Regions from separate parts of the Homo sapiens genome. Here region 2 is reported to be linked to region 1. Evidence: microRNA targets listed by miRTarBase, many of them from high-throughput screens and not tested one by one. Region 1 holds a microRNA gene; the other region holds the end of a gene's coding sequence.

The links. Region 1 holds the annotated microRNA hsa-miR-6771-3p (CAAACCCCUGUCUACCCGCAG, at 1,999-2,019, shown strand). A microRNA usually pairs through its seed, bases 2 to 8, with sites in the 3' UTR of a target mRNA and lowers its output. Matches are read on the target gene's strand: a 7mer-m8 pairs with bases 2 to 8, a 7mer-A1 pairs with bases 2 to 7 and ends in A, and an 8mer does both.
Region 2: the mRNA of VPS8 is a reported target of hsa-miR-6771-3p. The part of its 3' UTR that is shown has no 7-base or 8-base seed match.

Annotation. Positions count from the first base shown.
Region 1 is chr16:50,290,657-50,297,774 of GRCh38, forward strand. MIR6771 (microRNA 6771) reads left to right here and starts at 1,960; the gene lies at 1,960-2,019. It overlaps ADCY7 (adenylate cyclase 7), which reads left to right. Exons shown (of 26, transcript NM_001114.5): 3 at 1-4; 4 at 1,080-1,241; 5 at 2,020-2,169; 6 at 2,698-2,846; 7 at 3,984-4,095.
Region 2 is chr3:185,051,415-185,058,532 of GRCh38, forward strand. It overlaps VPS8 (VPS8 subunit of CORVET complex), which reads left to right. Exons shown (of 48, transcript NM_001009921.3): 48 at 462-1,190. The coding sequence ends at 611. Among named protein-coding and RNA genes, the nearest start is that of C3orf70, 98 kb to the right of the region's middle.

The DNA.
Region 1 (7,118 bases):
GCAGGTAACAGGAACTCTGGACTCCCTGCCAGCTGCGCCTTCAGCAGCTCCCATCCCCGTGGTTGGTGGGCATGCCACAGGCCCTTCGTGCCCCACGCTTGGCTGTGTGTCTAGGATGGCCCCAGGCTGGTTTTGTCCCTGTGAGTTCTCTGCATTGACAGGGCTGAGGTGGGGAGAGCATCCACTCGGACGCTGGGCTGCAGCACTTTTGGGTGGCTCCAGTTTGGTTGGAGATGACAGAACTTCAGCTCAAAGAGGCAAAAAGGCACAAACTGGTTCCTGTGTCAGGAAAGGCCAAGGGGTCAGTGCTGGGCTCCAGTGGGTAACTGGAACTGGGGCCTCTGGACAGCTTCGGCCCCGGGCACGCTGTCCCCAGGTGGGGGCAGAGAAGTTCACAGCGGCTCCAGGCTGCCCACCCCAGTTGAGAGAGAGGGCCCTTTCTCAACCAGCTCGACCTGCAGGCTTGAGCCACACTGGCCTGGCTGTGGTCATGGGCCCAGTCCCAGAGAGGCTGTCACCAAGCGGTAGCACACTCTGACCAGTGGGCCTGGGTCCTATGACAGCTCCTGTGGCTGGGGCAGGGTGGGGTGAGGCCCAAGGAAACCATGTGGACTGAAGGGGAGGGAGAGGGCAGCACTCCCAGAGGGGTGGACGCAGGACCAGCCGGTGGGGATGGTGGGGCAGCTCTGGGGGTGGAGGGAGGGCGGGTGGGGCCGCATTGCTGGAGGCAGCTGGTGAGAGGGTGCCTCAGCCTCCCGGTAATCATTTCTGCTGAGCGAGAACCACGTGGCAGGGGCACCAGGTGGGGGCTCCCTGGATCACGCGGGGCATGGAGCCTCCCACCTAGGGTGGCCACAGGCAGTGGATCAGCACAGGAAACCATGAACCTTGTGGCCGGGCCCACCCTAGAAACACATTATGGCTTTTCTTGTTCCCTTGTATGTCTGCCCACGCAGGGGGTGGCGAGGGAGCCAACCTAAGGATACGCACTGGGTGGGCTGCTGTGGTGCAGGGTTCCGGGGGCTGTACGGCCTGGGGCAGCATCTTGGGGCACCGGGCTCACCAGGCTGCATCCACAGGTGCCCTTCTTCCTGTTCATTGTCTTCGTGGTGTACACACTACTGCCCTTCAGCATGCGGGGCGCTGTCGCCGTTGGGGCCGTCTCCACTGCCTCCCACCTCCTGGTGCTCGGTTCTTTGATGGGAGGCTTCACGACACCCAGTGTCCGGGTGGGGCTGCAGGTGAGGGATGGGCTAAGGCCTCTGGGGGAGGTTTTGTGGTCTGGGTCTAAGGGCAGATGGGGGGGCCCCCTCTGGGTGAATCAGACCCGAAGGCCCCGGAGCCGTGTTTGCAGACAGCCCGCTCCAAGGCCGGGCCCTCTCCACGTCTGCTCGGAAGCTGGGCTCCAGGCGTGGCCCTGCCCTCTGGCCTTTGCTTTGCTGGCCTAGGGCTCCCCTGTGGCTCAGCCCTCAGGGTCGTGACCTCAGGCCTTGCCTCCCGGTTCAGGGACACTGTCGTGGGGTGAGTCCCATTGCCGAAGTTTCCCCTCGAAGGCCCTGTCCTGGCGGGGCTTGGGGGAGTACCCCAGGGCACTGCCTTGTGTCTTTGTGTTGAATGAGTGAATCTTCTGTTCATAATTATTGGGTGTTTAGAGAAGTGTTTTCCCTCTGACCAGGCCTGGTGTCCTCTCCAGGCAGAGGCTGGCCCTCCACACAGCCAGCTGGGCGCTGTGCCCTCTGGGACTGCCCTTAGCACGCATGCCCCTCGGGCCCTGGGCTCTGTGAGGTGGTCTCTTCTGCCTCCCTGGGTGTCCTGGTCTTGCAGTCCTAGTGACTCACTAGGAGACTAGCTCCTGTCTGGGCCTCAGTTTCCCTGTCTGCCCCAGGAAGAGTGCCATTCTCAGTGGGTTGAAGGTCAGGGAATGGGAAGAGGTGCCATCACTAGTCCGCCTAGGGGTCTGGTGCCTCGGGAGGGCATGGGCCAGGCCACATAATGAGCCAAACCCCTGTCTACCCGCAGCTGCTGGCCAACGCAGTCATCTTCCTGTGTGGGAACCTGACAGGCGCCTTCCACAAGCACCAAATGCAGGATGCATCCCGGGACCTCTTCACCTACACTGTGAAGTGCATCCAGATCCGCCGGAAGCTGCGCATCGAGAAGCGCCAGCAGGTGGGACCCGGCCCCCACTCCTCACCCTGTACACCCCTGTCCTCTTCCTCTTTCTGTTGGACATGAGACACTCATGCTGCCATGTGCATGAGGTGCATGGCCAGACACCCATGCAGGTCTCACCTCGGTGAGTCCTGGGCTCCAGCAGGGTAACCATAGCCTGCTGACCCTTGACTCTGCCTTCCTCTGTGTGGTTTCAGTCCTGGGCACGCAGTCCCCAGGTGGCGGCAGAGAAGGCCGTAGTGGCTCCAGGCTGCTCACCCATCAGCTTAGCCTCCCCAGCTGAAAGAGCCCTTTCTCAGTCACCCTGAGTCCCGGGGGCTGCTGGGTACATGGGAGGTAGATGCTCAGTTGGGTTGGTGGAGGACAAGAGCAGAGATGGGGACATTGTGGGCAGGGCAGGCAGGCAGGGAGGATGGGGGCCAAGGAGGCCAGGTCTGGGACCTGATGCTACCCTGCCTGTCCCCCGCTGGTCCCTCCGCCGGTCGCTTTGCTGGTCCCTCTGCTGGTCTGCCCACCCACACCCAGGAGAACCTGCTGCTGTCAGTGCTTCCGGCCCACATCTCCATGGGCATGAAGCTGGCCATCATCGAACGGCTCAAGGAGCATGGTGACCGTCGCTGCATGCCTGACAACAACTTCCACAGCCTCTACGTCAAGAGGCACCAGAATGTCAGGTGGGCGGTGAGACGTGTGATTAGCATATCCCGGGGACTGGGCCCACCGTTCCACCGGCCCCCAGGCGGCCTCCCCGCCCTATCTGGAGGCTCAGACCCCTGCCCATATAGGGATTGGGAGAGGGCCCCATGGTTCCAGGTCAATCTGGGGCCCTCCCTGGGTCTCAGAACCCCCACTTGTGGGCAGGATCAGATCAGGGCTCTTAAATTAGAGAATTTAGATTGGTATTGAAAGATCTAGCACACCCCCAAAACTGTAAAACTGTGTGAGCAAACATAGCTTTTGTGAAGGAAGGGGTCCTTTCAGATGGTTCTCAAGGGAGCACAGGACCCCCAGAATGAGGTAAAGCCCCCCGGCCTTGGTGCCCAAGAGTGCCCCGGTTCTGACACCTGTCTTTGGCTGATTTGCAGGGAACCACAAAATTTTACTTGAATGCACTGACCTGAGTTTGTCAAGTGTCGATGTGGGTGCTGGGTGCCGTTGAGTGTAGATGTGGGTCCCAGGAGACCCCCTGGGTCCTCTGCCTGCAGCGCCAGCATTACATCCAAGGCTGGCCCGCTGCCTTTTCTCTGGGCTGTGGATGGTCCATGAGCTTAAGGACTTTGGAGCAGGGAGAACTGGTGCAGATGCCAGCTCTTGGCTTCCCAGCAAGTCTCAATGTCCTGGAGCCTCAGTTTGTGCATCTGTAGAACGGGAGTTCGGCAAGGGCTGTGTGAGGACTCGATGCCTGTAAAGTGCTGGGTGTGGAGGTTGGCTTGAGGGAGCATGGAGCTGCCTCTCACCAGGGAGTTCTGAAGTCTGTGCTGTGGTGAACATTGGATGGGAAAGGGGAAGGCTCCGGGCTGCCTGCAGGAGTGCCCTTCGGCTGTCTGCAGTGATAGGGCCTGGGGTGGGGCCGAGGGCTCCTGTAGGCTCTGAATTTTGCTCCCTTCTGCTTTAACGTGAAGCCCCTGGAACTTTAATCTGTCTCTATGGCTGGGCGCGACTCTCCCATCCCTATGGAGGCTGAGGAAGGACGGGGGTGAATGGGCTCAGGCCTGGCAGGCTCCTGGGGCTCCAGACAGTCCTGCGTGCTCCTGCTGCTGCTGTCTAGGAGCCTGGCTCTGACACTCCCTCCCACCCTGCCCCATCCCCAGCATCCTCTATGCGGACATCGTGGGCTTCACGCAGCTGGCCAGCGACTGTTCTCCCAAGGAGCTGGTGGTGGTGCTGAATGAGCTCTTTGGCAAGTTCGACCAGATCGCCAAGGTGAGCCCGCTGGCCTACAATGGGCAAAGCCAGGCCCCTCCCCTGCCTATTACACCCCAGGGGTGTCCTGTGTTCAGTGCCCTGCTGGAATTGGGATGGGGAGGCGTGGCTGAATTTTAGCATCCAGCCAGCAAACACAAGCGCCCCATGGTAAAGGTGGGGGTGAGTGGTGGCCACGGCAGCCAGGATCCTGTGCCCCCAGAGTGACAGGCCAGTGGGGAGACTGACAGTGCACACTGGGCGATATACTGGGGCTCTGGAGCTCAGATGGGGGCTCAGGAGGAGGAGATGGCTCCATCCTCACTGGCAAGGCTAGCAGCCTCCACTCACCTGGTAGCTCAGGAGGACTGTGGAATGCCCAGCCTCACCCAGAAGCTGCTTTTCACAGGATCTGAGGTGAATCATGTGCACATTAAACTTTTACGTTTTGTTTGTTTGTTTTTGTGAGATGGAGTCTCATTCTGTCATGAAGGCTGGAGTGCAGTGGTGCCATCACTGCTCACTGCAGCCTCGACCTGCCAGGCTCAAGTGATTCTCATGCCTCAGCCTCCTGAGTAGCTGGGACTACAGGCATGCACCACCACGCCTGGCTAATTTTTTTTTTTTTTTTTTTTTTTTTTTTTTGTAGCAATGGGGTTTCGCCATGTAGGCCAGGCTGGTCTCGAACTCCTGACCTCAAGTGATCATCCCCTCTTGGCCTCCCAAGTGCTGGGATTACAGCCGTGGGCCACCACTCCTGGCCCACCTTAAAGTCTGAGATACTTGAAAAAATATCTGAGGAGGAAAGGGAACAGTGTTCTTAGCAGGGGGAACAGCATAGACAAAGCCTGGAGTAGAAAGAAAGCCCCGTGTGTCCATGGGGTGAACGTGCTCAGTGTGCGTGTGAGGTGTGAGGGGGACAAGGGCACAAGGTCTGACATGCAAGGACATGAGGGCTGAGGCGAGGACCAGGATGCTGAGGAGCTCGACACGTGCCAGGCAGGGAGGGGGTAAGGCAAGCAACATTTCCATTAATGGACCAAATGGTCCTGAGAGAGGGTAAGTGCCAGGCCCTGAGTCTGGGTGGGGCCTTGGGCCTACATGGTATGTGCTTTGAAGAAGAGAAGTGTGGGGGCCAGGAAGCCTGGGGAGCACCTAGCCCAGCCTCAGGTGATCAGGGCAGGCTTCCTGGAAGTGGTGGCCATTAAATAGAGACTGAAGTGTAAGATTTAAGGTGGTGGCTCCCTATCCTGGCTGTACATGCAAATCACATGGAAAGCTTAAATAAAACACCAGTGCCCATGTCCACACCCATCAGAGTTCTGTTTTGTTTTGTTTTTGAGACAGAGTCTTGCTCTGTCACCTAGCGTGAAGTGCAATGGCATAATCATGGCTCACAGCAGCCTCAACCTGCCTGGGCTCAGGCGTCCTCCCACTTCAGCCTCCCGAGCAGCTGTGACTACAGGTGTGCACCACAACCCCAGGCTAATTTTTTTGTATTTTGTGGAGATGGGGTTTTGCTACATTGTCTAGGCTGGTCTTGAATTCCTACGCTCAAGTGATCCACCCACCTCAGCCTCCCAAAGTGCTAGGATTACAGGCATGCACCATCATGCCCTGCCCCATCAGAATTTTTTTTTTTTTTTTGAGACGGAGTCTTGCTCTGTTGCCCAGGCTGGAGTGCAGTGGTGTGATCTCTGCTCACTGCAAGCTCCGCCTCCCGGGTTCACACCATTCTGCCTCACCCTCCTGAGTAGCTGGGACTACAGGCGCCTGCCACCACGCCTGGCTAATTTTTTGTATTTTTAGTAGAGACGGGGTTTCACCATGTTAGCCAGGATGGTCTTGATTTCCTGACCTTGTGATCCGCCTGCCTCGACCTCTCAAAGTGCTGGGATTACAGGTGTGAGCCACTGCGCCTGGCCAGAATTTGTAAGAGCCCCGCAGGTGTCTCTGTGGGCAGAGAATCAATGGTCTAGAACTTGATGGGAGGCAAGTTATGACTTCACACTGGGAAGAATTTTTCATGATCAGAGCTACTCAATCCCAGGAGGGACTGGAAGTGGGCTCCCTGTTGCAGGGGGTAACCAAGCTTCTACAGGATTGCACTGGTCAGGGATGCTCTGGAAAACTGTCCCATCCTGGGGATTGTGGACTGAGTGACTCAGAGGGCCTGTCTAGCCTGGAACCTTCCTTCAGGATCTGCATGGCTTCTGAACCAGCAGCTGGGAGCCCCAGAGGTTGGGCCTCATGTGAGGCAGGGGCCCTGGGCTCGGGCCACAGCTGGCCCTTTCCTTACCATAAAGCCCACACAGAGGGTCCCTTGCCCTTGGACACAGTCTTCCCTCTCCAGCAGGCCCAGGAGGCGTGGCCCTATTGCACAGATGGGGAAAGGGAGGCCATGGCAGGTGCCAGCTTCCCAGTCAGAGCATCTAATCTCTGGGCAGAGTTGGGCAGGGCTGGTCCCAGCCTTTTCTCCTATCAACAATCAGATTCCAGAAGTGTAAGCTCTTTCCAAGAGCCAGGGCCTCCTCTCTCAGAGGCATACAAGTCACACCTCCGCACAAGACCCAGCTCCCCAACTCCAAGTGTCAGAGACACAGGGGACTGTCAGCCGGTGGAGCAGCCGGGGGAATGTGGCCTCTCCTACATCCCCGAGAGCTGGGCTGGGTCCATGGGCAGTCCTGTGCCTGGTCCGAGAGGAGATCAGGGTAGCTGGAGCCTAGTATCCAGGTCTGCCAAGATTGCCTGCTTTCTAGGAAAGCCACTGTCCTCTTGTCCTTGCAGTCACTCAGAACTCACTCAGCATGTGCCAGATGGGGCCCAGCAGGAAACATCTGGCACACGCTGAAACTGAGTAATTGGCGGAGGGCACAGGCCAGGGATGGTTCCCAGGCTGGGCAGGTGCAGGGGACCTGGAGGCAGGGCTGGTGCTGTGTCTGGGGCCTGGGTCTGTGATGGCTGATGGGCACAGAGTAGGGACGAGGACAGGATAGGCTCGAGTCCTGGAGACAGATGGTGTTCCAGGAGCAGGCCTAGCCCTC
Region 2 (7,118 bases), not on the chromosome of region 1:
GCCAGTGGTCATAATTAGTCATTCACCCCGAGGAGAGTGCACCAAGATGGAGAGGTTGGAACAAGCAGAGCTGAGAACAGAGCTCCTCAGCCCAGGGCGCGTCCACAGGGAGAGAAGGGTGGCAGCAGGGCCATCCACAGCAGCTGGAGGAGCCCTCAGCACAGGGCCAGCCCAGGGTGGGAGAGCTCTCCAGTGCCAGAGAGAGCACAGTTTGAGTGCCCTTGGGAGCAAACCAGTCCAGTCTCATTATTGAATGAGGAAATTTAGACCCTAAAAAATGAAGTGAACTTGCCCAAAGTCACACTGCTCGTTTGTGATATATGGACCTAAGATTCAAACCCTGCATGTTACTACTCCTGCAACACAGCACTGTCTCTCATGTATCTGAAGCAGTGGATTCAGGAGCCTCTCTTCCCTCTGCTCCCCACAAACCTTAGCTGATGTGTGTCCTTCCTTTGCAGCTGGCTCTCCTCACGGAACTCTCCCAGAATCGCAGCAGCGAGAGCTATAGGCCATTCAGTGGCTCGCAGAGTGCTCCTGCTTTCAACAGCATCTTCCAGAATGAGAACTTCCAGCTGCAGCTCATTCCTCCACCTGTGACTGAGGATTGATGACTCCATGGAGCCTGGCCCAGGAGAACCAGAGATGATCCCGAGGCAGCTGGGGAGAGGCCCCGCCTCTGGTGGGCTTGGCCTCCACCACCTCCCACGCTTCTGAGAAGAGGTTCCAAATTGGGCTTCTGTGCCCAGAGCGTCCACAGCACCATTCCCAGTGTAGACTCCCAGTCTTCTCCACATTGCTGTCATGGCGTCAGTTCACCAGACTCATTGATTTTGTTTTGCTTGTTAAGCAAAGGAATGTCACATACCTCTGTCCAGCTTTTTAGGAAATACATTTCGCCTATTGCGACTTTTTCCATTTACCCTGAAGCCTAGAAAGTAGGTGGAACTCACACAAATGGCATTCCAGAGTCTGCCATACTCCGTCTCCTCCAGCTGCTGGATAATACAGAGGAACTTCAACTTCTACAGGGAACAGTGGTTGGCCAGGCTGCAGTATAACTGAAGCATGCCTTGGAGAGAGCAGACACTGTGGGGGCCAGGGCCATCTCCCTTTAATGTGTTCATGTTAAAACCTATTTGAGTGTAAGACTTGCCCTTTCTAACAATAAATGCTCCGTGTTTAAGTTCTGCAGGTCTCCTGGCTGGCTGGCTCTCAGTCTGTCAAGTCATGGAGGACATTTCGAGCCCTGTTGTCACAATTTTATTAGCTCAAAGTCAGGAATCCTGCCTGTGACAACCCTCCTTAATTCAGATAAGCAGCTCCATTGTCAGCTGTATTCAGAGCAGCCCAGCCACCCATATGCTCCCGTGACAGGCGCTGGGCTGCCAAAGAGAATAGTACTCAGTTTTTGGCCATGGGACTTCGTATATCATTGAACCAACTGCCACAGGAGGTCGCCACACCCAGACACCTAGGTTTCCACCTTACATACTCAGATGATCCTTTTCTCAGTGCAATGGAATCGTCAGGCTCTCATGGACTGATACTAACCAAACCCACAGGAAATAGATACATAAACTAGGTAGAAATTTTTTTTTTTTTGAGACAGAGTTTCACTCTTGCTGCTCAGGCTGGAGTGCAGTGGTGCTGTCTTGGCTCACTGCAAGCTCCGTCTCCCAGGTTCAAGTGATTCTCTTGCCTCAGCTTCCCGAGTAGCTGGGATTACCGGCACCCACCACCACGCCCGGCTAATTTTTTAATTTTTGGTAGAGATGGGGTTTCACCATGTTGGCCAGGCTGGTCTCGAATTCCTGATCTCAGGTGATCCGCCTGCCTTGGCCTCCTAAAGTGCTGGGATTACAGGCATGAGCCACCACACCTGGCCAATAGAAATTTTTAACTCTTAAATAGAAAATAGATCTTGTTTCTGCCATGTACTACGTATAATCAACAAATCAGTTAACCTCTCTAAGCCTCTGTTTCTTTATAAACAGAACTGTTATGAAGAGGAAATAATACATGTAAACATTTGCTATGTGCCATTGAGGCACATGGCAAATACCCCAGAAATGCTAGCTTAGCTTTTATTATATAACTTCTCCCAAGACCTGGGCTACAAGGGTACTGCTTCCTGATGAAGGTGTCAGGAGATAAAATTGAGGGAAGTGGTTGAACCATTAAGTCATCATTGCTTGGATGCCTGCCGCAGCTATATGACAGTCTCAACCCCAGCTGACAGATGAGAAAGCTGAGGCTCAGAGGTGATAAGTAATTTCACCAAGGTAACCTACCAAAGAGGTAGCAGAGCAGGTGGAATTCAGAGTTGTGATTCCAGAGCCAGTGATGCTACCTGCCCCAAGTTATGTATCAAAAGGTTTCTCATTGAGCCTAAAATAAGGCCAAAGGAACTTGATGTTCTCAAAGCAAAACTCAATTATTCCTTTTCTTCTTTTATAGTGTAAAGAACTAAGGCAAAGGAGTATTCAATATAAAAAAGCAAATTGTGACATCAAAAACATGAAATGTATGTGGGAAGGGTGAAGTAAAAGCAGAACTTTATGCAATCAAAATAAAGTTGTAATAAGTTTAAAATAGCCTGTTATAACTAAGATGTTGGCCGGGCACAGTGGCTCACGCTTGTAATCTCAGCACTTTGGGAGGCCGAGGCAGGCAGATCATGAGGTCAGGAGTTCAAGACCAGCCTGGCCAACATGGTGAAACCCTGTCTCTACTAAAAATACAAAAATTAGCTGGGAATGGTGGTGCGTGCCTGTAATCCCAGCTACTTGGGAGACTGTGGCAGGAGCATCGCTTGAACTGGGACCTGGGAGGTGGAGGCTGCAGTGAGCCGAGATGGTGCCACTGCACTCCAGCCTGGGGTACAGAGCGAGACTCCATTTCAAAAAAATAAGTAAGATGATTTATGTAAGCCTGATGGTAACCACAAAGCAAGAAATTATAGTAGGTAGATAAAAAGCAAGGAATAAAAAGTATACCACTAGAGAAAATCATCTAATCAGAAAGAAAGCAAGAGAGGAGGAAAGGAACAAAGGATCTACAAAACAATGAACAAAATTGCAGTGGTAGGTCCTTACCTATCAATAATTACCTTGAATGTGAATAGATCAGATTTGCCAATCAAAAGACAGAGTGGCTGATTGGATTAAAAATAAGATCTAACTATATGCTGCCTAAAAGAGACTCACTTCACCTTTAAGGACACACGTAGCTTGAAAATGAAAGATGGAAAAAGATATTCTGTGCAAAGGAAACCAAAAGAGAGCAGGAGTACCTGTACTTCAATAAAATAGACTTTAAGTCAAAAAGTGTCAAGTGAGACAAAGTTATATAATAATAAAGGGGTGGATTCATCTAGAACATAAAACAGTTGTAAATATATATGCACCCAACATCAGAGCACCCAAGTCTATAAAGCAAATATTAATAGAGCTGAAGAGAGAAATAAACTGAAATACAATAATAGGGGACTTCAACAATGATTTTCCAGACAGAGAATCAATAGAGAAACACTGGATTTGAATTACACATTAGACCAAATGGACCTAACAAACATACACAGAACATTCCATTCAACAGCATGAGAATACACGTTTTTCTCAAGTGCACATTGAACATTCTCCTGGATAGACCATATTTAAGCCACAAAACAAGTCTTAACAAATTTAAGATTGAAAATCATAACAGTATCTTTTCTGACCACAATAGTATGAAACTAGAAATCAGTAATAGGAATTTTAAGGAATTCACAAATCTGTGGAAATTAAACAACATGTTCCTAAAGAACATGGGTCAAAGAAGAAATACAAAAATTTTTAAATATCTGGAGACAAATGAAGATGGAAATATCCCATAAAAATATCATTTATGGTATGTGGCAAAAGCAGTTTTAAGAGGAAAGTGTATAGCAATGAAGTCCTACATCAAGAAAGAAGAAAAACTCCAAATAACCTATTGGCATAACAACCTAAAGAACTATAAAAAGAACAGACTAAGCCTAGAGTTAGTAAGAGGAAGAAAATAATAAAGATCAAAGCAGAAATAAATGAAATAGAGACTAGCACTAGAAAAATAATTTTAAAAAATCAATGAAATTAAGAGGGTTTTGTTTGTCTGAGACAGGCTCTTGCTTTGTCACCCAGGCTGGAGTGCAGTGGCACAATCACTGCTCACTGCAGCCTCACCCTTCTGGGCTCAAGTGATCCTCCCTCAGCCTCCCGAGTAGCTAGAACTACAGGGGCACGCCACCATGCCCAGCTACTGTTTTTTGTTTGTTTGTTTGGTAGAGGCAGAGTCTCACTATGTTGCCCAGGCTGGTCTCAAAAAACTCCTGGCTCAAGCAATCCTCCCACCTCAGCCTCCCAAAGTGTTGAGATTACAGGTATGAACCACTGTGCCTGGCCAAAAGTTGGTTTTTTGGAAGGATAAACAAAATCAATAAACCTCTAACTAGACTAAGAAAAGAAGAAGACTCAAAATCAGAAATGAAAGATAAGACATTACAACTGTAAAAAGGATCATAAGAGACGACTGTGGACAAGCACATACACGAACAAATTGGATAGCCTAGGTAAAATAGATAAATTCCAAGACACATATACCACCTACCAAGACTAAATCATGAAGAAATAGAAAACCCAAACAGAACAATAACAAATAATTAGATTGTATCAGTAATTTAAAAGTCTCCCAACAAAGGGAAGTCCAGAACCAAATGGCTTCTCCACGGAGTTCTACGTACCATTTATAAAATAATTAGTACCAATTCTTCTCAAACTATTCCAAAAAATTGAAGTAGAGGGAACTCTTCCTAACTCATTTTACAAAGCCAGCCTAACCCTGACACCAAAAACAGCAAGGACACTATACAAAGAAGAAAATTATAGGCCAATATCCCTTATGAACATAGCTGCAAAAATCCTCAACAAAATACTAGGTAAGTAAGCTGGGCATGGTGGCTCATGCCTGTAATCCCAGCACTTTGGGAGGCCAATGCAGGTGGATTGCCTGAGGTCAGGAGATAAAGACCAGCCTGGCCAATGTGGTGAAACCCTGTCTCTACTAAAAGTACAAAAATTAGCTGGGCATGGTGGTGCATGCCTGTAGTCCCAGCTACTTGGGAGGCTGAAGCAGGAGAATCGCTTGAACCCGGGAAGTGGAAGTTACAGTGAGCCAAGACTGTGCCACTGCACTCCAGCCTGGGTGACAGAGTAAGACTGTCTCAAAAAACAAAACAAAACAAAACAAAAAACTAGTTAACTAAATCCAACAATACATCAAAAAGATTATAAAGATAATACACCATGATCAAGTGGGATGTATCACAAGAATACAAGGATGGCTCAACATATGCCAATCAATATACATGATACATGACATCAATAGCATGAAAGACAAAAACTATATGATCATCTCAATACCTGCAGAAAAATCATTTGATAAAATTCAATATCCTTTCATGATAAAAAAAAAAAACTCTCAATAAGTTAGGTATAGAAAGAAAGTACCTCAACACAATTAAGGACGTGTATGGCAGACTCACAGCTAACATCATACTGAACGAGGAAAGACTGAAAGGTTTTCCTCCAAGAAATGGAACAAGACAGGGATGCCTACTCTTACTACTCTTATTCAACATAGTATGGAAGTCCTAGCCAGAGCAGTCAGGCAAGAGAAAAAAGGAAGTCAAATTGTCACTCTTTGCAGACAACATGATCTTAGAAAAACCTAAAGACTCTTATCAAAAAACTCATAGAACTGATAAATGAATTCAGTAAAGTTGCAGGATACAAAATCAACATGCAAAAATCAGTAGTGTTTCTCTAATAACACTAGCTGAATAACCAATAACAAACTAGCTGAAAAATAAATCAAGACAATCCCATTTACAACAGCTACAAAAAATAAAAACAATCTAGGAATAAATTTAACCAAGGAGGTGACGGGTCTGTACAACGAAAACTAGAAAACACTGATTAAAGAAATTGGAGGTCAGGTGCAGTGGCTCTTGTCTGTAATCCCAGCACTTTGGGAGGCCAAGGTGGGAGGATCACTTGAGCTCACAAGTTTCAGACCAGCCTGGGCAAATGGTGAAACCTCATCTCTGCCAAAAATACAAAAATTAGCCAGGTATGGTGGCACACCCCTGTTTTCCCAGCTAAAAGGGAGGCAGAGGTGGGAGGATGGCTTAAGCCCAGGAGGTGGAGATTGCAGTGAGCTGAGATGGCACCACTGCACTCCAGCCTGCATAATAGAACCAGACCTTGTATTGGGAAAAAGAAAGAAAGAGAAAAGAAGTTGGAGAAGACACAAACAGACATCTCATGATCATAGACTGGAAGAATTAACATTTCTAAAATGTCCATATTACCCAAAGCAATGTACAGATTCAATGCAGGCCCTATCAAAATACCAATGTCATTCGTCATTGAAATAGAAAAAAAAATCTTAATATGTGTATGGGACACAAAAGACCCTGAACAGCCAAAGCAATTCTAAGCAAAAAGAACAAAGTTGGAGGCTCACACTACCAGACTTCAGAATATACTACAAAGTTATAGTAACCAAACAGCATGGCACCAGCATAAGAATATACATAGACAGAATAGAGAACCTAGAAATCAATCCATGTATGTGATTTTTGACAAAGCCAACTGATTTTTGACAAAGACACCACATACACTTATTGGGAAAAGGACACCCTCTTCAGTAAATGATGCTGAGAAAACTGGATAGTCATAGGTAGAAGAAAGAAACTAGACCCCACCTCTCACTCTATACAAAAATCAACTCAAAATGGATCAAAGACCTAAATGTAAGATCCAAAACTATAAAGCTACTGGAAGAAAACATAGGAGAAACACTTCAGGACATTGATCTGAGAACAGATTTTATGACTAAGTCCTCAAAAGCACAGGCAATAAAAGCAAAAATAAATAGGATTATTTCAAACTAAAAAGCTTCTGCACAGCAAAGGAAATAATCAACAGAGTGAAAAGACAGCCTACAGAATGGAAGAAAATATTTGCCAACTGTTCATCCAACAGGAGTTGAATATCTATATCCAGAATATATAGGCAAGGCGTGGTGGCTCACGC